Linked DNA regions of Homo sapiens. The protein of the gene in region 2 purifies or fractionates together with the protein of the main gene of each other region. This does not show direct contact. Each region holds a gene or a part of one and is shown on either strand. Other genes may lie near its edges.

Region 1 (7,026 bases), on a different chromosome or scaffold from region 2:
CTATGAAAGGTAGGGCCTGAACCAGGATGATCTCAGCGGAGGAGGGGACAGGACCCCAATGTGGGGCCTCCGGACCTCTTGGCCTTTGTCCCGTTTGGGCTTTCCCTGGGCCAGACTTACCTAAAGATGCAGCAGAGTCCCTGGGGGACCATTTATCACCAGGGCACCAACAGAGGACCCCTCAGGATTGCTGGAGGCTCAATTCCCTGAGTCCAGTGGTCAGGCCCTGGGAGCAGGCCATAACTGGGGAGTGCTTGGCTCTCAGGCTCCATGAGAGCCAGCTGGAGGGCAATGGCCGCACCAGGGCCTGCACTCCCCACAAGCTCCCTCTGGGCAGCCGGTAGTGCATACTGTTCAGTTCCTCTGCAGAGAGTGGAGGGAGCCATGTCTCCAGGGAAATGGCTGTTGTGGAGCTCCCATGCCCTTCCATGGCCTAAGTGTACCTGAGGAAGAGCTCAGATCCTGTGTTGCTGAGAGGAGAGCTCTCCATTGTTGGGTGTTGGGTCTGGGCCATGGGGGTGAAAAATACAAACCCCTTCCACTTGGCCTCCTCTCTTTCTGAGAGCTGTCCCTTGGCTGTTCCTCCCAGGTCTCCTTTGTTGCAAGCAGGTGCCCAGGGCTTGGTGCACACACCCGAAACCTCCCAGGGAGCAACAGTGGATAGCAGATGGTGGAGTGGGTGTGGGCAGAGGGAACCAAGGTGCTAATTGAAAGCCAGGCCCCTCTTTCTCCTCTCTTTGCCCTGGGGCCAAGTCCAGGGCCCCAAGCCAGTATACTTAGACTGGTGAGGAGGAGGAGGAGGAGGAGTGACTGGCTGAAATTTGGGCAGCCATAGTAGGGGGCAGGGGAGACAGATCTGTTCCCATCTCAGCCTTGAGGCTTCAGGACATGGCTCCAGGCTGACATTACGGGGTGGAGGCCCAGTTTTCTGTGCCTTTCATGGGACAGACCCCCATGACCAGCCCTGGACCTCAGTGGGCACGAATGCATATGCAGAGCCGAAAGCTGGGGCCAGGATCAAGGACAGGCATGCACAAAACCTCCCACCCACGCCACACTGGCAAAGCTGGGAGCTGTTGGAGTGGGGTGGGGGGTGGGGCATGGAGGTTGTGGAAGGTATCTCAGAAAAGGGCCATTTTGAGTCTGGCCTTCGAGCATCAGGATTGTTTTGGACAATGTGTTGCACAAACCACCTTATAATGTCAGAAATCACAATGAAAGAAGAGATTCAGTTCTGCTCTCAGCACCTCGCTCATGTGGCAGCTGCTCCACAGGAAAGCCAAGGTGGGCAGAGCTCTTGCCAGTGCCCACACTTCCTACCATTGAGTGGACACAGTTGAGCTGGCGAGTCACCTGTTGTTGGACATTTAGGTAGTTGCTGAATTTTTTTTAATGTTATAAATAACTCTGCCGTGACAAATAGGAATCTGACGGGAGGCTTTTGGGGGAAGGGCACTCTTGCCAGAGGGAATGGTGTAAGCAAAGCAACAGAGCCAGGGCACAGGTCCCTCCCAGCCTTCTTGGGAGACTGCAGGCTAAGGTACCATCCTCCTGCCCAGTACACGGCCCTCAGACTGAGATGACTGTTGCAGGCCCCCTCCTGCAGCTGTTATGGTGTGAAAATGTGTAGCCGGCAATGGTAACTGGCTATGCCTCTGCTCTCAGCTGTGAGGATGGGATTCTGGCCACATGCTTCTCCCCAGTGGAGGAGTGCAGGGTTGTGCCCATGGTGGCAGACATGCAGTCAGTGACGATCTTCAAAGCCTCTCCTTTGTCTCTGCTGTGCCTCGCAAGATGGCTTAAACCCTGTCTGGAATAATGCTGATGAAATGCATTTGTATTCCCTGAGCCCAAGCAACCCAGATGAAGGAATGATAGAGTTTGTTCCCTAATGCTGAAGGCAAATCTGAGGGAGAATTTCCAGGGCTGTGACTCCTGGGAATCACAGCCTGGTGGCTGGCTTCTGCCTGGGAGGAAGCAAGTAGCAGCCAGGGTTGGCTATGGGGCTCGTTTGGGTCCTGGTCTTTGACTTTGGCTGGCAGAGTTCATCTTGCCAAGCTGCCTCCTTTGCCTCCTCCCTTCTCCACTACCTTGAGGCTGTGAGTGCCTTCAGGTCGGGGAGCATCTAGGTACCCCCAGGCCCTAGCTCAGGCCCTGCACACAGCAAGTGCTAATTGGCATGGAGGGAAAACATGCACAGTCAGCAGAGGCAGAGCAATTTCAGCGCAGCCTCAGTGCAGAGCTTGCTGTAGCCCCAGTGTCACACTGACCGGGTATTATGGAGGCACACCCTGGCGTCAGATCTGTGAAGGTCTAGTCAGTAACCCCCCACCCCCAGCTTTGAGCATGGGCTATGAGTGCCTTTTCCTTTGGACACTGGAGTCAGCCCCCCTAGCACTACAGATGAGGATTGGGCTGTAATTGGCAGGATTGCAGACCTGTGGGACACCGTGCCCCAGGTGGAAAGAGTGCCTAGCGCTCACTGAGCCAGCTATATCTGTTCTGTTTGGGGGCCTTGCACCTGGACCTGACAGCCCAGGTCCCCTGTGGGCCCCAGTGGGCATGAATGCATATGCAGAGCCGAAAGCTGGGACCAGGATCAGGCTTGTTTTGCTCTTCCTGACCAGTACACCTGCATACCTCCTGGCAAATCTTTTCCTACTGAGTCCTAATGCTGCCTCCAAAGCTTTACCTTGCCTCTCCACCCAGATTATCCCTCTGAGGAATCCCCCAAGCACTGTGCCTGAGTGCAGTATTTACTAAATTCATCGAAGTCATTATAGTAAAATAGTAAAAATTCGCACAGAAAATTAGTAAACAAAAGATATGTCTGCCTTTTTGACATCCAATTCTTTGCCCAGGAGAGAACTCTTATTTCCTTCAGTATTCTTCCAGAAAAGAGTTTGTGAGGGTACATCAGTATGTAAACTTTAAAAAATTTACCCAAGCCAGGTATGGTGGCTCATGCCTGTAATCCCAGCACTTTGGGAAGCTGAGGTGGGAGGATCACTTGAGCCCAGGAGTTCAAGAACAGCCTGGGCAACGTAATGAAATCCTGTATCTACAAAAAAATTTTTAAAAATTAGCCAGTTGTGGTGGTGTGCACCTATGGTCCAGTCCTAGCTACTCAGGAGGCTGAGGTGGGAGGATCGCTTGAGCCCAGGAGGTTGAGGCTGGAATGAGCTGTGATCATTCCACTGCATTCCAGCCTGGGTGCCACTGCATTCCAGCCTGGGTGACAGAACAGCTGGGCATGGTGCGGGTGCCTGTAATCCCAGCTGCGGTGGGAGGATCGTTTGAGTTCAGGAGCTCTGGGCTGCAGTGCGCTATGCCAGTTGGGTGTCTACACTAAGTTTGGCATTAGTATGGTGACTTCCTGGGAGCTAGAGCTCATCAGGTTGCCTAAAGGAGGGGTGAAGCAACCAAGGTCAGAGACGAAGCAGGTCAAAACTCCTGTGCTGATCAGTAGTGGGCTTGTGCCCATGAATAGCCACTGCACTCCAGCCTGGGCAACATAGTGAGACTTGTCTCTAAAAAAAGAAAGAAAGAAAGAAAAGAAAAGAAAAGAAATAGGTCTTCCAGAATCCCCCCATGTGTCCTGAATCAATCATAACCCCTCCTTTTCTCTTAGAAGGGACCATTATCTGACTCTGCTTATTTCCTAGCTTTTCTTTATAGCTCTACTGCTGTGTTTGTATCCCCCTTACGGGTTTGTTCTGCCTGTTTGAACTCTATCAATAGACTCATACTATATGTATTCTTTTGTGTCTTTTTGCACTTAACACTGTGTAAGAGTCACCAGGTGGTTGGGTATAGCTGTAGCTCCTTTGTTTCCATTGCTATATAATATTCCATTGTGTGACTCTACCACAATACATCCTGTTGGTGGTGGTATTTGGTCTGTTTTCAATTTTTGGCGATTATGTATATGGCTACTATGAGCATTGTATGACTGTCCTGATGCACGAATATGTGCACTTCTGTAGGCACGTATTTAGGAGTGCAATTGCTGGTTCATAGGGTATGTTTGTTTGACTTTAGTGGTTTTACCAAACTGCTTTACAAAGGGGAGTTTGCCCTCTCCTAGCAGTGCTCACGTTCTTCATATATCCACTAACACTTGTTAGCTCTAGACCTTCAGAGATGACTAGCAGGTGGGTGGGTGGTTATAGCCCCCTTCATCTGTAAAATAGCTGAAATTTAAATAAACTGTTTGATAAGCCTTTTTTTTGAATGTATAGAATACAAAACTATTCCCTTATATATCAGCTTAATACATTTTTTCATATGTAGGCTGTTGCACTTCAGGCAGCCAAGCTGAGTAGCTGGATGTCTAGCCAGAAAAGCAGGGGTAGGATCTAAGCCTGCCTATCCTCTAGCCCCTCCTGGTATGGTCTCTGCCCCTAGCTTGGCCTGAGCCAGGTTGGGGTCTCCCAAAAGCAGCCCCTATGTTGTGGGGAAGTGGAGAGTAGTACAGCTAAGCCAGACCCCATTGTGCCCGCAGGTTAGAGCCTGGCAATGCCGTTTGGGTGTGTGACTCTGGGCGACAAGAAGAACTATAACCAGCCATCGGAGGTGACTGACAGATATGATTTGGGACAGGTCATCAAGACGTGAGTGCCGGGCCTGTCAGGCAAGGCTGGGTGGGCTGGTGAGCAGGGGCTAGGGAAGTGGCAGTGGAGTGCAGCTGATGCTAAGGCCAGGCCTGAGTGGGTGCCTGTCGGCTGCAGTGAGGAGTTTTGTGAAATCTTCCGGGCCAAGGACAAGACGACAGGCAAGCTGCACACCTGCAAGAAGTTCCAGAAGCGGGACGGCCGCAAGGTGCGGAAAGCTGCCAAGAACGAGATAGGCATCCTCAAGATGTGAGTTTGAGGCCTGGGATTGGGGCGGGGTGGGAGGCAGCAGGGAAGGGCTTAGAGGGCAAGTGGCCTCAGGCAGTCCCAGCCTCTGGCCAATTAGTCTGCTGTGGCCACTGTGGTGACCACAGCCTCTCCCAGGGGTTCATCCAGCCCTAACTACTGGCTCCCCTCCCTGTCGCCAGGGTGAAGCATCCCAACATCCTACAGCTGGTGGATGTGTTTGTGACCCGCAAGGAGTACTTTATCTTCCTGGAGCTGTGAGTGTGGGTCTGGGGACCCAAGATTCCCCAGCGCCCAGGGCTTTCACCTGTCCCACCCTCTGCAGCTAAGGAAACCCCCTTTCTGGACCCTTGGCGTCCCAGGTCCCTGTGCCTTGCTCAGCCAGCTGCCTGGCGTAGGCAGCTCACCCAAGTGCTCCTGCCCTACCCCTGATTCTGCCCACGCCAGGCTCAGGGGCTGGTGTCCCTCAGGGCCACGGGGAGGGAGGTGTTTGACTGGATCCTGGACCAGGGCTACTACTCGGAGCGAGACACAAGCAACGTGGTACGGCAAGTCCTGGAGGCCGTGGCCTATTTGCACTCACTCAAGATCGTGCACAGGAATCTCAAGGTGAGGGCAGAGCCAGAGTCAAAGGGCCAGTTGGCAGCTGGGCTGGTGCTGGGGTGGGCAGCACCTCAGGGCCTTGGTCTAGCCTCCAAGGTCCTCATGGTGTCTTCTGCTCACCCACATGCTATTCTCACACCACAGCTGGAGAACCTGGTTTACTACAACCGGCTGAAGAACTCGAAGATTGTCATCAGTGACTTCCATCTGGCTAAGCTAGAAAATGGCCTCATCAAGGAGCCCTGTGGGACCCCCGAGTATCTGGGCAAGCAGGGGGTGGGGCAGGGGCAGGGGGATAATGGGGGGCAGCCTTCAGGGAGCTGCTCTGGGCAGGGGGAAAATGTGCTCATCTCAGGAAGCTGGTGTGGATGGTACTGGACCTGGCTAGGCCTGATACTGACCAGCAGATGGGCGCTGTGTTTGTAGCCCCAGAGGTGGTAGGCCGGCAGCGGTATGGACGCCCTGTGGACTGCTGGGCCATTGGAGTCATCATGTACATCCTGTGAGTGGACAGATGGACAAGCAGGCTTGCAGTCAGATGGGGTGGGGGCATGTGTCTGTGGCCTTTCTGTGTGACCCTTCCCCCATGCAGGCTTTCAGGCAATCCACCTTTCTATGAGGAGGTGGAAGAAGATGATTATGAGAACCATGATAAGAATCTCTTCCGCAAGATCCTGGCTGGTGACTATGAGTTTGACTCTCCATATTGGGATGATATTTCGCAGGCAGGTGAGGAGGTGCCTGCCCAGCACTTGGTAGAACGCAAGGGAGTGGGGAGGGTGTCCTGCTCTCATCTTCCTCTGTGGTATTCTGCTTCTGTCCCCCAGCCCATTTATCACCTCTAGACATTGAGATGGGGTGCCCATGACTATCCCCTTCTTGGTTTTGTCCACAGCCAAAGACCTGGTCACAAGGCTGATGGAGGTGGAGCAAGACCAGCGGATCACTGCAGAAGAGGCCATCTCCCATGAGTGGTGAGCAGGGTCCAGGGGAGGGTGGGAGAGGCCAGGGTCCCCCTCACACCCAGCAGCCCCATCTTTGAGGCCTGGAAGGGGTGCAGGTACCTAGAGCTCAGGGCAGCCCAGAGGCTCTGCCTGGTAGTCCCTGGATGCCACATAGAAGGGCTGAGCAGAGTCTCCACAAAGGCTCATTCTCTCAGATCCAGACACACTTGCACCCTTTCCAGGATTTCTGGCAATGCTGCTTCTGATAAGAACATCAAGGATGGTGTCTGTGCCCAGATTGAAAAGAACTTTGCCAGGGCCAAGTGGAAGGTAAGGCTTGGATAACTCCCTTCTTGGCTCTATCCCAAGTATTGCTTCTGGCACTCAGTTTCTTGCCTGCATCACACCCCTGCAGCCACACACAAGCTTTTCTCAGGCCATCAGGTGTGGGTGTAGCCACTGTGATTACCTTAAGTAGGAGTGCTGAGCAGCTGAGTACTTGGCCCTGGGGTGGATGGAGGTGGCCGGGGGTACTATGGAAGGAGTTTGGTTTGGTCACTGCCAAGCAATGGATCCAGCAAGCCTCACCCTTAGCCTTTCTCCACTGTGCTCCTTTCAGA
Region 2 (5,533 bases):
TTTATTTCTTAAACACTTGTATCTCATAACCACTCATGACGTTTATAGCTATTTGTATCTGGCAGAATGGTTTTAAAAGCACATGGACCCTTGTGAATAGTTTCGGGTGGCATTTTGTCCTCAGTGCAGCATTTTGAGGCATGTGGAGTCATCTCTGCTCCACTCCCTGCTGCTGTGACTGAGGCCGCTGGCACTGAGAACACAGCCCACAGTGCTGTCTGGGCTGCCAGGCCTGGTGGGGAGTGGAGTGTGCGTGCCCCAGAACTTTCCGTCTTCCGAGGCCCTGTTACAAACTGTATAAGTAGCTTAGCTGGTTTTTTTCAGTAATTGCCCTTCAGGCATTAGGAAAGTTTCCTTGATATTTGGCTAACTTTTCTTTCAAGTTTCTTAAGTCCTGAAATGGGTTAGGAGCTCTGTGCGCTCACATCAGCTGTTGGCCTTGTAAGTCACACCTTTGCTGTGGAGTCTGCTGATTATCTGCTGTTTGACAGTCTGAGTGCTTGCTGAGCTAAAAACCCAGGGGACCCGGGTACCTTCTGGGTGGGCGTGATTACAGACATTCCAACTTTTCGTAAGATTCTGGTAGGATTTTTTTTGTGTGTCTCCCCTTCTGTCTTTGAATGGAGTGAGTCCATGCTGTCTCCATAGGAGATGAGAAGGGGTTGGCCTTTACTGGCAGCTACACAGAAGATGGATTTTTCTTCATTATTATAGAGTCAGTGCTGTGAAATCCCTAATTTGGGCTAACTTAGGCTGAGTTTACTGAAGTTAAACCTCTTAAGTATGTTCTGAATACATAGCCACATGCCGGAGTTAGTCCCCATGTGCCTTAAAGGTAGTTGAGAAAACAAAAGAGCCCTTTACCCCTTAGGGCACAGAAGGGGCTGCGCTTGGGCTCCCAGTATCCCCAGCTACCAGACAATTCTTGAGGTCGGGGTGCATGCTCCCCTGGGGTTCCTGGGTTTGCACCTCTATTTCCTTTCCTCTCTCCCTGGAGCCCACATCCCACACTGCCTCTCCTCGCTTCATGCACATGGCGTGTGTTTCAGTGCCATCTACATGCAGAGCCACCTCTCTGAGACTGCTTGTTTCCAAACACAAAGTCTTTGGCATCTCCTAAAATTTCCTTCATGCAGCTTCCCACCGCAGCCCCACCTCTCCGTCAGTGGAAGTTCACACCTCACCACCCCCATCCCATCCATCACCAAGCTCTGGCAATTTTACTTCCCAGCTGTCCCCTGAATCCTTCCGTTTCCCTGCCAAATCATTTGATGTTGATTCAGGCCCCTCTCAGTGCTGCAGAGCCCTCCTAAGAGAACTTCTCCCACTTCTCTTAGCCCCAGACCCAGCTTCCCTTGGTTGGAGGAGAAGGAAGCGCAAACGCGGATACTGCCTGCATGGTCCTGCGAGGAAGCCCCACCCTGGCCCTGGGGCCTTCTGTTTGCCTGTCACTCGCTCTCGATGCTACCTTCTCTCACCAGTGCTTTGGGTCCTTCCCAGCACAGGGCCCAGCATAGCCCTTCTCTTCCACCTAGCAGATTCCAGCACATTCTTTACTTTTCTTTTTTTTTTCTTGAGACGGAGTCTCAGTTGTTGCCCAGGCTAGAGTGCCGTGGCATGATGTCAGCTCACTGCAACCTCCTCCTCCTGGGTTCAAGAGATTGTTTTGCCTCAGCCTCCCGAGTAGCTGCGATTACAGGCACACGCCACCACGCCCGGCTAATTTTTGTATTTTTAGTAGAGATGGGGTTTCACCATGTTAGCCAGGCTGGTCTCGAACTCCTGACATTGTGATCCGCCTGCCTGGCTTCCCAGAGCACTGGGATTACAGGCGTGAGCCTCCGCGTCTGGCCTCCAGCACATTCTTTAGCTCTTGACTTGGATGACTCTTGACCTGGGAGGCTGCCTCGACACGTGGAGATTGGTGTGTCCTGTTAGTTTTTATGCCTCTTTTCCTCATGAAACATTAGTCATGATGTTATTTCTGTGATTATCTTTTTTTTTTTGAGACGGAGTTTCGCTCTTGTTACCCAGGCTGGAGTGTAGTGGCACGATCTCTGCTTACTGCAGCCTCTGCCTCCCGGGTTCACGCCATTCTCCTGCCTCAGCCTCCCGAGTAGCTGGTACTATAGGCGCCCGCCACCTCGCACAGCTGATTTATTGTCTTTTTAGTAGAGACATTTTCACCATGTTAGCCAGGATGGTCTCGATCTCCTGACCTCGTGATCCACCTGCCTCAGCTTCCCAAAGTGCTGGGATTACAGGAGTGAGCCACCATGCCCGGCCCTGTTTCTGTGATTATCTTACATTGTCATTGTCCCCCCAGGCCTGTCTTTCACTGTGGCATGCATTGTCTAGGGTAGATGCTTGTTAGATATTTTATGACTTGCTGTCTTTTTCAACAGGACAAATTGATGGCCAGGAGATCACTGCCACCGCCGTGCTGGCCCCCTGGCCTAGGCCACCCCCCAGGAGATTCAGCCCTCCCAGGAGAATGTTGCCACCACCGCCTATGTGGCGCAGGTCTCCCCCACGGATGAGGAGAAGGTAAACAATTTGTAGTTTCAGTGGACTGATCAGGCCACAAACCTCATGTGACCGCAGTGACTTTCAGACCCTTTATTCAGCCCTGCCTGCCTTCCACTGCTGTGCGGGCTGGCAGAGAGCAGGAGCCCTTCAGAGCTCATGGAGAGAGCAGGAGGGCCACAGCTGCAGTAAGCCACAGGCAGGAGACGCCCTAGAGTTGCACCAACACAGCTTTCTGAGTCTGGGCAGTGGCGTGGTGTGGCCTTCCTAGGAGACCACTAGACCTGTGAGCCCAGGTGCAGGCCCACCTTTTTCTGAGCTAACAAGAAGAGCTAGGAGAGGGAGAAGTTGGGGGTCAGAAGAGTTGTGGGGCGGGGGTGGTAATCCCTCGGCAGAGGCCACAGTTTGGTCTTCCGTTGCCGGTGGTGAGCTGTGCTTTCAGCCTTTGGGGAAGAGGAGGAAAGCCTGGGCTTCTGCCTTGGGTCTCACAAGCACCCGTTCCCAAGAGCTCAGGGCAGGCCCATCAGGTGGGACCTGTCCCAACTTCTAGTATTAAAAAGTAAAACTTCTGCCAGGCATGGTGGCTCAGGCCTGTAATCACTTTGGGAGGCTGAGGCGGGCAGATCACGAGGTTAGGAGATCGAGACCACCCTGGCTAATACAGTGAAACCTTGTCTCTACTAAAAATACAAAAAAATTAGCCGGGCGTGGTGGTGGGTGCCTGTAGTCCCAGCTACTCGGGAGGCTGAGGCAGGAGAATGGCGTGAACCCGGGAGGTGGAGCTTGCAGTGAGCCAAGATCATGCCACTGCACTCCAGCCTGGGCAACAGAGTGAGACTCCATCTCAAAAAAAAAAAAAAAAAAAGGTAAAACTTTGCCACGTGTGGTAGCAATCGCCTGTAATCCCAGCACTTTGGGAGGCTGAGGTGGGTGGATCACAAGGTCAGGAGGTCGAGACCATCCTGGCCAACATGGTGAAACCCCATCCGTACAAAAAATATAAAAATTAGGCCTAGCATGGTGGCTCACGCCTGTAATCCCAGCACTTTGGGAGGCCGAGGTGGGCGGAACACGAGGTCAGGAGATCGAGACCATCCTGGCTAACACGGTGAAACCCCGTCACTACTAAAAAAAACAAAACAAAATTAGCTGTGCGTGGTGGCGTGTGCCTGTAGTCCCAGTTACTCGGGAGGCTGAGGCAGGAGAATGGCATGAACCTGGGAGGCCGAGATTGCGCCTCTGCACTCAGCCTGGGCAACAGAGTGAGACCCCATCTCAAAATAAATATATACACACACAAAAATTAGCTGGGCGTGGTGGCGCGCGCCTGTAGTCCCAGTTGCATGGGAGGCTGAGGCAGGAGAATCGCTTGAACCCTGGAGGCAGAGGTTGCAGTGAGCTGAGATCGTGCCACTGCACTCTGGCCTGGAGACAGAGTGATATTCCATCTCAAAAAGTAAAACTATGGGGAATTGCCCAGAAAGAAGCTAGCTTGCCCCTACAGCCTGAGCTACTCTGATGTGGTTTCTCCTCTTCCCGCAGGTCCCGCTCCCCGAGGCGCAGGTCCCCCGTGCGCCGGAGATCACGGTCCCCGGGCCGCCGCCGCCACAGGAGCCGCTCCAGCTCCAACTCCTCCCGATAAACAGGCCACTGAAGCTCTCGCCCCTGTAACTTATACCCCACCCAGCTCAGTTTTGTCACTTTTCTAGCCAAAGGAAGACCAGTAGGAAAGCAAACCCTTGACTCTGGCAGGATTTGCAGGCAGCAGGCAGCACCCCTCTGCCAGCCGGGCCCCGGCTGCAGAAGTGCTGTTGGTTTGGATGCTGTGTGCCTGTCAAGATTCCCTCCGGTTTTCTGGCTAGAAAGCTCATCCGTTTCCGGTTTCTAAGAGTCAGTTCAGTGGCAGAGCCACCAGGGAAAAGTGAGGCTCTTGGGGGTGGTTTGACCCTGCTTACCTGGGAGCACACTTTTCCCTTCCCCGATGACCTGGGATGGTGGCCAGGCCGTGCCCTTGCTGTTGCTGGGCAGTGTCCTTTTGGAAAGGGAGCTGCCCCAGGCTTTAGTGCAGCTGCCAACCCTGTTAGGCCTGGCCTCTCGAGGCCTCTTCTGACCTCAAGGGTCACACCCCCTCAAAGATCCTCTCACCCATGGTAGTTGCTGCTCGTGGTTCTGTCTGTCCGTGCACCGATGCACACACCGCACCCCACCACTGTACTCTGAAATTGGCGAGTGAGTGGAGAGCCAGCTCTGCGGAGTCATCACGCAGCCATGGTTGTGCCTGCCGTTCATGGTGGTCTTTCAGGTTATCTTGGCAACATGTACATTGCTTTTATTTTTTTTCTTTTTTGCTTTCATTGTACAGTCAGTACTATAAAATTTCTCTTTTGAGTTTTATACCTTTGTAGCATTTTAGATGACATTGTGTTTGTACTTTGTTGTGTAGAGTGGAAGAATTGTGTTGAATAAACCCAAGATCGGAATGCAAATCTAGTTCTGGGTTCACTGCCTTCTCACTTGTCCCCTCGCCCCTAGTAACTTTCTGTTCCTCACCATCCGCAGTGGCACCTCCGATGCTTTCAGCCAGGAGAACCTAGGGTTTGTGTGCTGTGGGGACCAGGTTGCTCCTAGGGTGGACAAATAGAAGGAGATGGTTTTATCGCCACCTTGGAATGTGTGTGTGTTTTCAGACAGACTCTCGCTCTGTCACCCAGGCTGGAGTATGTACCATGGTGCGATCATAGCTCATTACAGCCTCCAACTCCTTCTTCAGTGTCCAGAGTAGCAGGGGCTAATTTTTTTTTAATTTTTTAATTTTTTTTTTGAGACAGTCTCTGTTGCCTGGGTTGGAGTGCAGTGGCGCAATATTGGCTCACTACAACCTCTGCCTCCTGGGTTCAAGTGATTTTCCTGCCTCAGCCTCCTGAGTAGCTGGAATTACAGGCACCTGCCACCATGCCCAGCTAATTTTTTGTATTTCTAGTAGAGACGGCGTTTCATCATATTGGCC
Region 3 (7,244 bases), on a different chromosome or scaffold from region 2:
TAGAGGAATCTGTGTCTGGGCCTCCGCCTGCCGGCTCCCTCTGTCTAGATGGAGGTGGGACCCAGCCTGCTGGACCCAGGGCCCCTGATTTCTCTCGGTCTGACCCCCCGACTCCAGCCAAGGCCTTGCCTGCCTCCTGGGTTTCCAGAGGCTACTCTCCAGAGGTCCCGCCCAGTCCCCAGAAATTTCTCCCTCCCCTATGGGAACCGCGCATAGTCACAGGGGTCCTGAGGCCCCTGGTCGGCTGCCTCCGTAAGACCTCTTGCCAACCCAGGCCTCTGAGAAAATGCTCCACCCATTACCACCTCCCACAGACCCCAACTGGCTCTACTCAGCCACCAGCGTCTCTACCGTACTCCTTGTCTCTCTGTCTCTTTAGGGGACCAGCCCAGGTTGGGGGATCCAGTTCGGGGACTGCAGCCTCTCTCAGTCCCGGGACCTGTGATGGGATGTCTGGTCCCTTGGTTCATGTGTGTGTCTCCATCTCCCCAGAGGACCACTGCCGGATGAAGCCTGGGCCCAGGCGGATGGAGGGGGACAGCCGTGGTGGGGCTGGGGGCGAGGCCTCGGACCCTGAGTCAGCAGCCTCCTCCCTCAGCGGAGCGTCCGAAGAAGGCAGCGCCAGTGAGAGGAGGCGGCAGAAGCAGAAGGGAGGTGCTAGTCGGAGGCGCTTTGGGAAGCCCAAGGCCCGGGAGAGGCAGCGAGGTGAGTGGGGTGCATGGGGCGGGCGCTGAGGGGCCCGGGCTGCTGAATTGCTGTGTGTCCTTCCCAGAGGTCCCCCTTTCTCTCCAAGCCCCTCCAGCCTTGCTGGAGAAAGACCCACCGGGTTCTGTCTCTCCCTCCTCCACGTGTGGTCCTGGGTTTACTTTCTTTTTTTTTTTTGGCGGGGGGGACGTCTTGCCCCGTCGCCCAGGCTGGAGTGGTGCAGTGGCGCATTCTCACCTCACTGGAATCTCCGCCTCCCGGGTCCACGCCATTCTCCTGCCTCAGCCTCCCGAGTAGCTGGGACTACAGGCACCCGCCACCACGCCTGGCTAATTTTTTGTATTTTTAGTAGAGGCCAGGGTTTCACCGTGTTTGCCAGGATGGTCTGGATCTCCTGCCCTCGTGATCCACCTGCCTCGGCCTCCCAAAGTGCTGGGATTACAGGCGTGAGCCACCGCGCATGGCCTGTCCTGGGTTTACTTTTAAGTTTTGGTCCACCGTCGAGGGCAGGGCCACCTTGGGCACCTCCTTAACTTTCATCAGTAAGGAGGAGGTGCGCAGTAGGACCTACCTCACGGGGAGGGTGAGACTTGAATAAGTGAATTCACCTGAGGCAGGGAGACGAGGGTGATGGCTCGGGGTGTCGGGGGGTGCTGGGACCGCGTGGGTTGAACCCGGCCTCTTGGCTCATTTTGTCTCCTCACTCTCCTTCCTGGGCCTGCCTCTTCCCATTTCCCACTGGTCCAAGATCTGGCTGCGATTCTTCCCCTCCTCTCTGCCCCTTCCTTGCCTGTTGTTCTCCGTCTCCACCTGCACCGGCCCGTGCCTCTGCTCGCCGAGATCCTTTCTTCCCATGGCCGTTTCCCTTCCCGTGTCCGCCCCCTCAGTCTTGTGCCCTGCCCCTCACTTTCGTGTCCCCGCCTCCACCCCTCAGTGAAGGACGCCGACGGGGTCCTCTGCCGGTACAAGAAGATCCTGGGCACCTTCCAGAAGCTCAAGAGCATGTCGCGGGCCTTCGAGCACCACCGCGTGGACAGGAACACCGTGGCGCTGACCACGCCCATCGCCGAGCTGCTCATTGTGGCCCCCGAGAAGCTGGCCGAGGTGGGCGAGTTCGACCCCTCCAAGGAGCGCCTGCTCGAGTACTCCCGCCGCTGCTTTCTGGCCCTGGACGACGAGACGCTCAAGAAGGTGCAGGCGCTCAAGAAGAGCAAGCTGCTGCTGCCCATCACCTACCGCTTCAAGCGGTGATCGCACCACGCCTCCGCGCCTCCACCCGGGCCTTCCTCCCCCGTGGACCCCGGTGGATGACCTGCCCCTCTCCCCGCCGCGCCCCTGCCCCTCCTCCTCGCTCCCTGGGTTGGGGGCTCCCTTAGCCGGGCCCCCAAGCGCGACGGCCCCGGACCGGCCGCGGCCCCTTCCCGAACGCCGGCACCCCCTTCCGCTTGGGCTGCCCAGCCCTGTCCTCGCCGGGCCCCTTCCTCCTGGAAAACCAGGCAGGCGGGTGCCCCCCCCTCGAGTGGGGGACTGTACAGACCCCGTCTCCGCCCTGGCCCCGCGGAGGAGCTGCCCACCTGATTCCCGGACAGACCTCCCCAACTCCGCGTGAGACAGAGAATTATTCAGATAATTTAAATTAAAAAACGACGTGAAAATTTGGAATAAACTTGGCCTCAGCCTCTTCCTAGGAGGGGGACGTGCCTGGGAGGGGGCGGCCGTCGCCCCGAAGACGGTGACGGGGTTGCGGGGGCTTCCAAGGGGGTGGGTGGTCAGGCGGGAGGACGGGTAGGATACGGTGTAATTAGCCCCCCGGAGGCAGAGATGGAGAGTGAAGCAGCTGCGCCCCAGAAAACTCGGAGGCAGAGCTCGGGAAAAGAAGCGCGGACACAGCCGGGCGCGGTGGCTCACGCCTGTAATCCCAGCACTTTGGGAGGCCGAGGCAGGCGGATCACGAGTTCAGGAGATCGAGACCATCCTGGCTAACACGGTGAAACCCCGTCTCTACTAAAAATACAAAAAATTAGCCAGGTGTGGTGGCGGGCGCCTGTAGTCCCAGCTACTTGGAAGGCTGAGGCAGGAGAATCGCTTGAACCCGGCAGGCGAAGGTTCCAGTGAGCCGAGATCGCGCCACTGCACTCCAGCCTGGGCGACAGAGACTCCGTCTCAAAAAAAAAAAAAAAAAAGTAAAAAGAAGCGTGGACACTACCCGCTGGGCTACCCAGACCGGAGCGCGGCGCGAGAGGCGTGAGTCGATGACCTCTAGCGAGGGAGGCCACCTAGCGGCCAGGCCAAGTCTGGAGGATACTTCCGTTGGGCCGCCAGGGGGCAGTAACGCCAGATCATCTGTCTCCCGGAAGTAATGCCAGATGATCCGTCTGCCGCGCCTGCGCGGCGGGAAGAGCCGGAGCGCGTTGATGTGGTTGCCGAGACAACCAAGAGGGTGGCCGGATTTAACGGCTGGGGATTAAGCACTTTCACCGTTGTAAGGGAAATCTCGCGCACGCGCAATGGGGACTGAAACCTGGTCCCCGCAACCCCCTTCACGGGAGCAGTGGGAGAGCGCGCCACAGAACGACTTTTACGCAGGCGCAGAAGCCTGTTTCCCCTCACCCGCGGCTTCCACCCTGCGCAGGCGCAAAAAGCCGCGCTGGCAACCTCCGCAGCGGTCGCGCGCACCCTTCATCCCTCTTGCTGCTTTTGTCTGGCACAACCTTCTCAGGCCCTCCGCGAGGCCGGCCCTTTTTTTCTTTCACTTTCCCCACCCGGAGAGCCAGGTGCCGAGAACTAGGACCTCGTCCCCTTCTCTATCCCTTCCCCTGATCCATCTCGTCTCTGTTCTCCTTCCCTTTTCCGTTCCCGAAGCCGGAAGGAGCCGAGGTACCCACGGAAAAAGTCGAAGCTGTCCCCGGAGAGTGAGGCCTTCACGAAGCGGTGGCGGAAGGAGCCGAAGTTCTCTGATCGGAGGCGTGAGCAAGTGGCATCTCCGGAAAGAGCCGAAACACGGACTCGAGCTTAATCCCAGGAGGGGCCCGAGGGCGAGATCCGGAAATCTCCGGAAAGAGCCGAAGGCCGGGACGGTTAGGATTGTCGGAAGTGGCCGATTGCTTGGACAGGGCCGGCGGAGAAGATCGGAGCAAGTCCGTGGAAGAAGCCAAAGACTGGGACGGATTGAATTGTTGGAAGAACCCGAACTCGCAGAGGGGACTGGGCGCAGTGGCACACGAGGACACACGGAAACCTCCGAACGTTGAGGAGATAATCTCGGAAAAGTTACGGAAACCTGGGAAGTCGGCGAAACCCTACGTTCGGGTGTTTTCGGAAGCAGCCGAAGCGGCCGCCTGCTTCGCCTTCGTCCAGTATCCGGAGATAGCCGAGGCGCTTCGGAGCCAGGCTCGGGGGGAGGGGCAAGCTCGCGGGCGGGCGGGCGGGTGAGGGGGCGGAGCCCGGGCGGGGCGGGGAGGGCTGCCGGAGGCTTGATTAGGTAGGAGGTGGCGAAGCGCCGGCGGCGGCCGGAAGTAGCCGAAGCCAGCGGCGGAAGTAGCCGAAGCGGCTGGAGCGGGCGGCAAGGCGAGGCGAAAGCTGCACAGGGCCCTACGCGGCCGCCTCAGCATGTCGGACTTCGACGAGTTCGAGCGGCAGCTCAACGAGAATAAACAAGGTGAGGGCACCGGGGTCGCGGGGCGGAGGTGTGGGCGGCTCCTCGCGTCGCTCTTTGCCCCCCCGCCATTTTCTCCCTCGCTTCCCCCCACTTCACGGCCGCGCGGCGCCCCCCAACCCTGGTTCCGTGGCGCGCGCCTCGTTCACGTGACGTCCCCAGCGTTCCGCCGCGCGCTAGGCGAGGGGAAGGGGGCGGCGGGGCGCGGGCCCGTGACGCATGCGCACGGCGGCTGTCCCTGCGCCCCACGTGGTCCTGGCGGAGGTGGCGCGGGGGACGCGGCACGAGCGCGCCAGATGCCTCGACGTGAACTTTTGTTTTTTAAAATCTTTTTGGTTTCTCTGAAAAGGAGATTATGTTAGTCCCCGTAATCTCTTTTCTCCCGCTGCCTTGGCACTTCCGCTTCCGGTCGGGCCCACGGCAGCGTCTCCACGCCCCCTTTGTTTCCAAAATGGCGGTTGTGAGAACTTGGTGGGGGGGCCCCTTTCCTTCCTTCACGTGGATGAGGGCAGAGCCGTTTCGGCGGATGCTTGGAGGCCACGGGCCCCTCGCGTACCCCTTTTCCTTTTTGCTGATTTGCTCTGATCTCTCCCGCCAGGTGGTTTCTGCCCCGTCTGTTGGTAGTGGGGCGCCTCATATTAACGTGTTTGGCACATGTTGCCTAAAAGCATCTGCATTCTTTGAGTGTCCGCACGCACACATCCTGCATATGCGGGGCTTTTGGCGGTCCCGAGAATCGCGATATGGAGTGTTTGAGACAAACCTCAAATCATTTACAATCCCAATCTCAGGGCACCTGATAATACTCAGTCTCAGATCTCAATATAGAGATAAGAAAACAGGTTCTGAGGGAGGAAGAGGGATCTGGCCCACTGCGCTAAACTCTTCACTTACGGGGAAGGTGGGAGGCAGGTTCCCTTCAGGGTATCGAAAATTGTGATGGGTTAGAACAAAAAGCCTGGGGCCCTGATCTTAGGGATTCCAATAATATTAGAAGTGGGAGAGTTGTTAAGACGCTTTAAAAATCCTCCGTGTTTCAGTTTGTGAAGAAATACAGGACCAGGGAAGATTGGAGACTTGTTTCTTTTCAGGCTTCAGCTGCCCATGTTCCTAGCTCGTTCGGAGGACGAAATGAGGGCTGAGGAATTTTCCTTTGAACCCGGGCTAGAGTTGGGTAGGGGCTGTATTAGGAAACAGTGTCCTGGGGAAGCAATAACGTTTACTGAGGGTCTGACTCTGTCTTAGTTGATGGACTGCTCAAGAGCATAGGCTTTGGAGTTGAGCACATCAGGAAGTTTAGATACCTGCTTTGTCGTTTAGTAACTGCTTTTAATACGTTTATATATTTTTTTCCATTTGTAGACTGATTATTATTTTCTTGTTACCGGATTTTGAGAAGATTAAAAAGGATGATAGTAACGATAGATGTAGTTAAACTCTGAGCGCTTACCGTGTGCCAGGCTCTTCGCTAAACTCTTAGCATGTTTTACTAAGTGGATCCTTTTAACAGCCTTGTGAGGCCAAAATGATTTCCACCTCTACTGGGGAGGAAACTGAGGGCTCAGAAAAGTTAAAAACTTTCTCAGGGCTCAGCTAGTCAGAGGCAGAGCTGAGATTAAATGGGGTAACATGTAAAGTGTGTGGCATGTGGCTTTGCGTACACTGGGTGTGCAGTAAGCGATATTTGCAATTGTAAAATTCCATGCTTAGAGAGGAGGGTCTTCCGCTCACAGAGATTGTGTCAGAGTTGGGAAAGGGCAGGAAAAGGTGCTTTCCAAATGTCATTCTGCCACACAACACCTGGATGGAGTAGATACGACCCTCGTTTAAAGAGAAAACCAAGTCTTAAAGGCTAAGTTGCTTTTGCATGGTTTTTGTTGTTCATAAGCAGAAAAGCAGGTACTGATTCTGAGCTCTGGCTGCAAGGCCAAGTTCCACTCTGCTGGACCAAGTGGAGCTGATTGGGCGGTTCTTTGAGGCTCTCAGATGGTGCTTCACCGGTTCTCCCGGGGTTTCCCTTTTGGTGCTGGTAGGGCAGTCCCTGAGACCTGGCACGGCTCCTGGGTTGGCGGAGCTGCTCCCATAAGATGACCACAATACAGTGTTTTGAGCAAACGAAGCTCTCATTGTTTTTACCTGTCCAGCATCAGTGTGTGGGAGAGGGTTCTTGCCATAGGGGAAGCTCTGCCCGCGTGTCACTGCCTGTAGTCTTTGTCTCTGCGGAGGACGGGCCAGCTTCTGTACGTGTCGCCTTCTGCTTCAGTCCTTTCCTCTGCTACCTGTATCTACAGGGAATTTCCTTGTCTATATCCCAGGCACCCAGCGGGCATCATTGCTTTCTCTGCGTGGGTTCCTGTCTGCCTGCTTGCCTGTTTCAGAGCCTTAGCAGCAGAAAGGGCTCTTGGGGCTCACAGCCTGTCCATCTTATAAGCGAGGAGCTGTGCCCAGTGCCGTGCCTGTGTGCCCGCTGCTCTACACTGCTGGCCTGTCCTGCCGATTGTTCCTCCCAATTTCAGTTTTTGATTTTGGGGTTTTTGGCCTTCAAGGGGACAATTATATTGTCATTAATGGTTCTAGCCAGACCTGAGTGTTCTGCCTGATCCACATTCGAGAGTATGGCCTCGTGCTTAACTCACTGATGTCAGAGTGTTTAAATTCTGGTGTCACCATTTCCTAGCTGTTTGACCTTGGTAATTGTGATCTCTCTATACCTTAGTTTCCTTACCCATTATGTCAGCCCCCAGCAGTGTTTTTCCGAAGCAGTAGTGAGGATTAAGAACAAACAAAACAATTTAGTACAGATTCCGGTTGTAGGAAGCATCTCAATATTTGTTGCTGTTTTTTTCCCTGCTGGGTGCATATTTTTCTGAGTGTTGGTGGTTTT
Region 4 (7,026 bases), on a different chromosome or scaffold from region 2:
AAACGGGTGACTTTACAAGGCAGGTTAGAAAAAGCCTCACAAGATGCTAACATTTAATGAAGAGCTGAAAGCTGTCACAGCAGCAAGGAAACACACCCGGCAACGCCAGACAGCAGGCATTCTAACAGTTACTGTGGAGCATGACAGTGGGACCAATGAATGCTGCAGGGCTGGGGAGTGGACGAAGGCCAAACAACAGCTGAGCTTCCTGAAGGGCAGCCAGAGGGAAACCACCCCAGCACACTGTGTGAGTTCCCTGGAGCACTTGCTTACCCGGGGTGGGGGGGCCACAAATGTGACTAAAGGTAAAAAGCAAATGCAGCAAAGCAATGGTACCCCCAAGTCCTGAAGATAGAGAACAAAAGCTCAAAGAAGGTAGCACAGACCCAATGCCGGGCAGCGCCCCACAGCCAGCGTATGCGTGCAGCGCCCTGACGGCAGCTCTCCCTCAGGACATCACTGGTTGAGGGCTCATCTAAGTAGCAGCCCAGAGCAGAGACTCAACGGAAGTGGGTCGTGGAGTTGGGAATTAGGCTTTGAGGTACTCGAGGTCCCATCTTGGAACTCTCACTCTTTGGAAGCGTGCTTGCCTCAACAAGCCTCCATTTCTTTATCTTAAAAATGGGAGTAGCAACCCCTGCTGCACTTGGAAGCTGTGAGAAAGTCAGTAACACCAAGTACAAGCGCTCAGCAAGGAGGCACCGTCCCCTTGACGGGAGCTGTTCATTGTGACAAGGCACAGCAAGCTTCTATAGCTATGAGTGGAGGCTCTCAAGGGCACAGAAACCCTACTGAACTTGATCCATTCTTTTATTTCTTTTCTATTATGGAGAAGTTCAAGCATTTAATGGAGGCAGAGCAGTATAACGAACTCCCATGAGCCCGCTTCCATTATCAACACGTGGACGGACTTGTTTCATCCCTATCCTCCCACAGCCCACTGCATTTTTTTGAGACGGAGTCTTGCTCTGTCACCCCGGCTGGAGTGCAGTGGCATGACCTCAGCTCACCCCAACCTCTGCCTCCTGAGTTCAAGTGATTCTCCTGCCTCAGCCTCCCAAGTAGTTGCAATTAGAGGCCCCTGCTACCACACCCAGATAATTTTTATATTTTCAGTTGAGACAGGGTTTCACCATATTCACCACTCGAACCTGGATCACTCAAGTAATCCTCCCACCTCAGCCTCCCAGAGTGCTGGGATTACAGGCGTGAACCACCACGACCGGCTGGATTATTTTAAATGAAATTCCAGATAGCACACCATTTTGGTCTCTAACAAAGGCTTTTAAACATCATAACCACAGTGCCACTATTACATCTTAGAGTTAACATTTACTAATTCCTTAACCTCATCTATGATCCAGTGTTCAAATTCCTCAATTGGAACTTTTTTGTTCGCCCAATTGGAACTTACTTGTTTGTTTTTTGAGAAGGAGTCTTGCTCTTATTGCCCGGGCTGGAGTGTAATGGCGCTATCTCTGCTCACTGCAAACTCCGCCTCCCGGGTTCAAGCAATTCTCCAGCCTCAGCCTCCCGAGTAGCTGGGATTACAGGAGCCCACTACAATGCCTGGCTAGGTTTTGTTTTGTTTTTGTTTTTGTTTTTGTTTTGGTATTTTTAGTAGAGATGGGGTTTCACCATGTTGGCCAGGCTGGTCTTGAACTCCTGACCTCATGTGATCTGCCTGCCTCAGCCTCCCAAAGTGCTGGACAACAGGCATGAGCCTCCGTGCCTGGCCTGGAACTGTTTTTTTTTTTGTTTTTTTTTTTTTTGAGATGGAATCTTGTTCTGTCACCCAGGCTGGAGTGCAATGGCGTGATCTCGGCTCACTGCAACCTCCGCCTCCCAGGTTCAAAGGATTCTCTTGCCTCAGCCTCCCGAGTAGCTGGGATTACAGGTACACATCACCACGCCGGGCTAATTTTTGTATTCTTAGCAGAAACAGGGTTTCACCATGTTGGCCAGGCTGGTCTCGAACTCCCAACCTCAGGTGACCCACCTGCCTTGAAGGATTACAGGCGTGAGCCACCACGCCCGGGTGGAACCGTTTTTAAAAAGCATTTCTGGCCGGGTGTGGTGGCTACGCCCTGTAATCCCAGCACTTTGGGAGACCGAGGCGGGCAGATCACCTGAGGTCGGGAGTTCGAGAACAGCCTGACCAACATGGAGAAACCCTGTCTCTAAAAATACAAAATTAGCCAGGCATGGTGGTGCATGCCTGTAATCCCAGCTACTCAGGAGGCAGGGAAATCGCTTGAACCGGGGAGGCAGAGGTTGCAGTGACCCTAGATCGTACCACTACACTCCAGCCTGGGCAATAACAGCAAAACTCCATCTAAAAAACAAAAAACAAAAAATGAAAAACACTTTTGGCTGGGCATGGTGGCTCACACCTGAAATCCCAACACTCTGGGGGCCGAGGCAGACAGATCACCTGAGGCCAGGAATTCAAGGTTGCAGTGAGCTATGACTGCACCACGGCAGTAAAGCCTGGGCAACACAGCACGACCCTGTCCCTAAGAACAAAACAAAACACAACAAAAAAAAAAGAGGCTGAGCACAATGGCTGACACCTGTAATCCAGCACTGAGGGAGGCTGAGGCAAGAGGATCACTTGAGCCCAGGAATTCAAGACCAGCCTGGGCAACATAGTGAGACCCCGTCTCAGTTTTAAAGTTTTTCCAAAAAAGAAAAAAAAGAAGACCCACAGTGGATGTGGTTGGTTAAGATATAGACAAACTAGGCCGGCTGCGGTGGCTCATGCCTGTAATCCCAGCACTTTGGGAGGCTGAAGCAGGTGGATCACCTGAGGTCAGGAGTTCGAGGCCAGCCTGGCCAACATGGTGAAACCCCATCTCTACTAAAATTACAAAAATTACCTGGGCATGGTGGCGCACGCCTGTAGTCCCAGCTGCTCAGAAGGCTGAGGCAGGAGAATCACTTGAACCCAGGAGGCGGAAGTTGCAGTGAGCTAAGATAGTACCACTGCACTCCAGCCTGATTGAGAGAGCGTGACTCCGTCTCAAAAAAAAAAGGAGGGGGGTGACCAGGCACGGTGGCTCATGCCTATAATCCCAGCACTTTGGGAGGCCAAGGTGGGCAGATCACAAGGTCAAGAGATCTAGACGATCCTGGTCAACATGCTGAAACCCCGCCTCTACTAAAAATACAAAAATTAGCTGGGCGTGGTGACGCACGCCTGTAGTCCCAGCTACTTGGGAGGCTGAAGCAGGAGAATCACTTGAACCTGGGAGGCGGAGGGTGCAGTGAGCCAAGATTGCACCACTGCACTCCAGCCTGGCGACAGAGCGAGGCTGCCTCCAAAAAACAAACAAACAAACAAACAAACAAAAAGACATAGGTAAACTAGTTAAGACTGTGACTGTGTTGTCTAGGCAAGAGGTGACCTGGGTGGTGATGATGGACATGAAAAGAAGGGTCAGATTTGTGACATTTAGAAAATAACACAAATAGGTCTTGGTGAGAGGCTGAGCAAAAGGTTAGAAAAGGTGTTAGAAACAAACTGCATGGCAAAAAATGAGGTCATGACCGGCACAGCTGAATGTCTATGTCCCAGAGAAAACACCCAAAGGAAACCAGGTTGGTGGCGAGGGAAAACCCCTGTGGTTTGGACACTGAGTCTGAGATGCCTCTGAGGCAGGACATCAAGACAGCGTTCCGACAGCCAATGTCCAAAGAGTGCACCGCCAGATGTCTCTGTCACGCTTCTGCGTAAGCACCGTGAGGAAATCCTGCACTCCAGGATTTGGAGGAAAGGGATTCATCAAAGTTCACAGGTATAGGAGGAAAACCTGTCTTCTCACTAGAGTCATGTTCTGAGAAGTGCGTCGTTTGATGATGATGTCGATATGCCAACATGAGATGGCACTTCCACGAGCCTAGACAGCATACCTAACACTCCTGGGCTAGAGGGTGCGTCCCACTGCTCCGAGGCCAAGCGTGTTACTACACCAAATACTACAGCAATCCTAACACAATAGTAAGTATTTGTGCATCTAAACGTTATCAAAGCATAGAAAGGGTACAGTAAATAGACGGTATAATCTTTTTTTTTTTTAAGACAGATTTTTGCTTGTTGCCCAGGCTGGGTTGCAGTGAGCCGACGCGATCCCGGCTCACTGCAACCTCCGCCTTCTGGGTTCAGGAGATTCTCCTGCCTCAGTCTCCCGAGTAGCTGGGATTACAGACGCTCGCCACCACGCCCAGCTAATTTTTGTACTTTTAGTAGAGACAGGATTTCACCACGCTGGCCAGGCTGGTCTCGAACTCCTGACCTCATGATCCGCCTGCCTCGGCCTCCCAAAGTACTGGGATTACAGCGTGAGCCACAGTGCCTGGCAAAATATGATATAATCTTATAGGATCACCATCACATCCACGGTCCCCTGCTGAGTGAAACACTGCTATGCTGCCTGTGACTGTACAGTTTTCACTTTCAGAATAAAGAGCCACTGGAGGTTGACATCTGACCCTCTTATGAGTTTGGTTAATGGCAACAACACACCTGTCTTGTACTCCAATTCCTCCTCTATGTGGAGGGGATGGAACATCCTCAGCCCAAGGGTTGGGGACCTAAGGTTAGAGCCAGGACAGACCACTATCCCACAACCCACCACTTCAGCCTGTGACACCCAGCTGGGTTGTGGGAGCCCCTTAACTGTCCTCCCATGCAGGAGGAGCCCAAGGTACCAGGGGTCTCCCTTCCTGCCAACTTTTACCCTATGTTCTGCTGCTGAAAAGCCTAAACCAAAAACAGTGCTTGTGAAGTGGCAGGGGCTAAACAAATGAACTAACAACCCTGTTCCCCACAACACAGGCCTTAGGGAGACAGCAGGGTCCTGGGTATGACCTGGGAAGAATACAGAGGGTTTGGGAGAGGAGAGAGCCAAATGGTGGATGAGAGACTTACACATTTTAAGCTCTGTCTCCACTTCTTGCTGTCGCCGCTCAATCTTTTCCCGTCTCTGTCAGGAGAAAGGGGAGGTGGAGAAGTGAATGCAGATAGAAGTGCCCTAGTGTCAAGGATCATCTGGAGACAGTGGTAAAACAGGGGGTCAGGAAGCAAAAATGACATACTTTCCTCTCCATGCGCTCCTCTCGGGTTTCAGCACGAGTTGGAGGAGGGGCATCTCGAGGGTCCTGGGAACAAGAAGAGAGGTGACAGGGTGGGAAGGACTGGGGGAAATGGCAAGGGACACTCACCAAGGAAATAAACAGGTTAACCCTCCCACCCCCACCCCCTACAAAAATAAACATCCACGCACACTTCCCCTGACACAGTGGAGGGAGGGGAGTGGCACAGATCAAAGCAAGGTCTGCAGCCACGCACAGTGGCTTCCACTTGTAATCGCAGCACTTTGGGATGATGACACAGGGAGAATGCTTGAGCCTAGGGGTTTCAGACCAGCCTGGGACAACACAGTGAAACACCATCTCCACAAAAAATTTAAAAATTAGCCAGGTGTAAAGGCCGGGTGCAGTGCACACGCCTGTAATCCCAGCACTTTGGGAGGCCGAGGCAGGCGGATCATGAGGTCAGGAGATCCGAGACCATCCTGACTAACATGGTGAAACCCCACCTCTACTAAAAATACAAAAAATTAGCCGGGCGTGGTGGTGGGCGCCTGTAGTCCCAGCTACTCGGGAGGCTGAGGCAGGAGAATGGCATGAACCCAGGAGGCGGAGGTTGCAGTGAGCCGAGATCGCACCACTGCACTCCAGCCTGCACAACAGAGCAAGATTCCGTCTCAAAAAAAAAAAAAAAAAAAAAAAATCCTGTCTCAAAAACTAAGCATGGTCCATGGACCAGTACTATCTAAACTGTTGCTGGACTGTGATAAGTACAGAAACCAGGACTAAGTGTTCAGGAACTTCTACAGTAATTTCACAATTTGATGTCCACTGACTCTTAATACAAATTTGGTCTTTTATTCTGTAGGTCTTTTTTTTTTCTGAGACGAAGTTGTGGTCTGTTGCCCAGGCTGGTGTGCAATGGCGCGATCTGGGCTCACTGCAACCTCCGCTTCCCAGGTTCAAGCGATTCTAAGCCCTGCTTTCCCCCCTGTGCCCGTCTCTCTAAAAGGAACCCAGCAACTGACTAGAATCGTTCAAGCGGTTCTCCTGCCTAAGCCTCCTGAGTGAGTACCTGGGATTACAGGCACACGACAGCATGTTGGCTAGTTTTTGCATTTTTAGTAGAGACAGGGTTTCACCATGTTGGCCTGGCTGGTCTTGAACTCCTGACTGTAGATCTTTCTTTAAAAAGTAATTCTATCATATTTATCAAAAGCAAACAGATTGGAAACAGTATCTGTCCTTCACCAAAGACAGTTTGAAAAGCACTGGTACAGGTGACATCTAGCTTTATAGTATTTAGGAAACACCCTGTCTTCCATATTTAGGAAAGACATTGCTTCTCACAGCTCCAAGTATCACTCACATTGAACAAAGTGCCAGAGGATGTGATGGGAGTGGAGTGATGGCAGGGCCCTGCTTATGAGTGCCAGTGAGGATGACCAGGCCTAAAGCAACATAAGCTGACAGAACAGGGCTCCAAAGCCCACAACTGCACACCCTCTGAGGGCCAAGGCAGCTCTTAAAGGTCTCATCAACCACACATTAAATAGGAACTGGCTGGTAGGGTGCAGTGGCTCATGCCTGTAATCCCAGCACTTTGGGAGGCCAAGGCAGACAGATCACAAGGTCAGGAGTTTGAGACCATCCTGACCAACATGGTGAAACCCCGTCTTTACAAAAAATACAAAAATTAGCCAGGCATGGTAGCGCGTGCCTGTAATCCCAGCTACTCAGGAGGCTGAGGCAGGAGAATCCTTTGAACCCGGGAGGTGGAAGTTGCAGTGAGCCTAGATCACGCCACTGCACTCCAGCCTGGGCAACAGAGCGATACTCCATCTCAAAAAAAAAAAAAAAAGGTCGGGTGCGGTGGCTCACGTCTGTAATCCCAGCACTTTGGAAGGCCAAAGTGGGCAGATCACAAGGTCAGGA

Evidence for each region.
Region 1: the proteins of RNPS1 (region 2) and CAMKV purify together in Homo sapiens (affinity purification with mass spectrometry; 4 studies listed by BioGRID and IntAct, with this or other methods). This does not show direct contact.
Region 3: the proteins of RNPS1 (region 2) and U2AF2 purify together in Homo sapiens (co-immunoprecipitation; 7 studies listed by BioGRID and IntAct, with this or other methods). This does not show direct contact.
Region 4: the proteins of RNPS1 (region 2) and SNRNP70 purify together in Homo sapiens (co-immunoprecipitation; 8 studies listed by BioGRID and IntAct, with this or other methods). This does not show direct contact.

Annotation. Positions count from the first base shown.
Region 1 is NC_000003.12:49,859,881-49,866,906, reverse strand, and holds part of CAMKV (caM kinase-like vesicle-associated protein), read left to right. Parts: intron 1-3,246; exon of another isoform or gene 3,247-3,532; intron 3,533-4,504; 5' UTR 4,505-4,518; coding exon 4,519-4,613; intron 4,614-4,730; coding exon 4,731-4,862; intron 4,863-5,041; coding exon 5,042-5,116; intron 5,117-5,329; coding exon 5,330-5,468; intron 5,469-5,606; coding exon 5,607-5,727; intron 5,728-5,888; coding exon 5,889-5,964; intron 5,965-6,054; coding exon 6,055-6,191; intron 6,192-6,357; coding exon 6,358-6,436; intron 6,437-6,648; coding exon 6,649-6,736; intron 6,737-7,025; coding exon 7,026-7,026. UniProt on the Homo sapiens protein: Does not appear to have detectable kinase activity.
Region 2 is NC_000016.10:2,252,599-2,258,131, reverse strand, and holds the end of RNPS1 (RNA-binding protein with serine-rich domain 1), read left to right. Parts: intron 1-2,405; coding exon 2,406-2,547; intron 2,548-4,068; coding exon 4,069-4,168; coding exon of another isoform or gene 4,169-4,235; 3' UTR 4,236-5,012; downstream 5,013-5,533. UniProt on the Homo sapiens protein: Part of pre- and post-splicing multiprotein mRNP complexes. Auxiliary component of the splicing-dependent multiprotein exon junction complex (EJC) deposited at splice junction on mRNAs.
Region 3 is NC_000019.10:55,650,791-55,658,034, forward strand, and holds the start of U2AF2 (splicing factor U2AF 65 kDa subunit), read left to right. Parts: upstream 1-4,244; 5' UTR 4,245-4,314; coding exon 4,315-4,363; intron 4,364-7,244. Other genes in the region: CCDC106 (coiled-coil domain-containing protein 106), read left to right, coding at 493-705, 1,640-1,956. UniProt on the Homo sapiens protein: Plays a role in pre-mRNA splicing and 3'-end processing. By recruiting PRPF19 and the PRP19C/Prp19 complex/NTC/Nineteen complex to the RNA polymerase II C-terminal domain (CTD), and thereby pre-mRNA, may couple transcription to splicing.
Region 4 is NC_000019.10:49,088,425-49,095,450, reverse strand, and holds part of SNRNP70 (U1 small nuclear ribonucleoprotein 70 kDa), read right to left. Parts: intron 5,161-7,026; coding exon 5,098-5,160; intron 4,986-5,097; coding exon 4,931-4,985; intron 1-4,930. UniProt on the Homo sapiens protein: Component of the spliceosomal U1 snRNP, which is essential for recognition of the pre-mRNA 5' splice-site and the subsequent assembly of the spliceosome. SNRNP70 binds to the loop I region of U1-snRNA.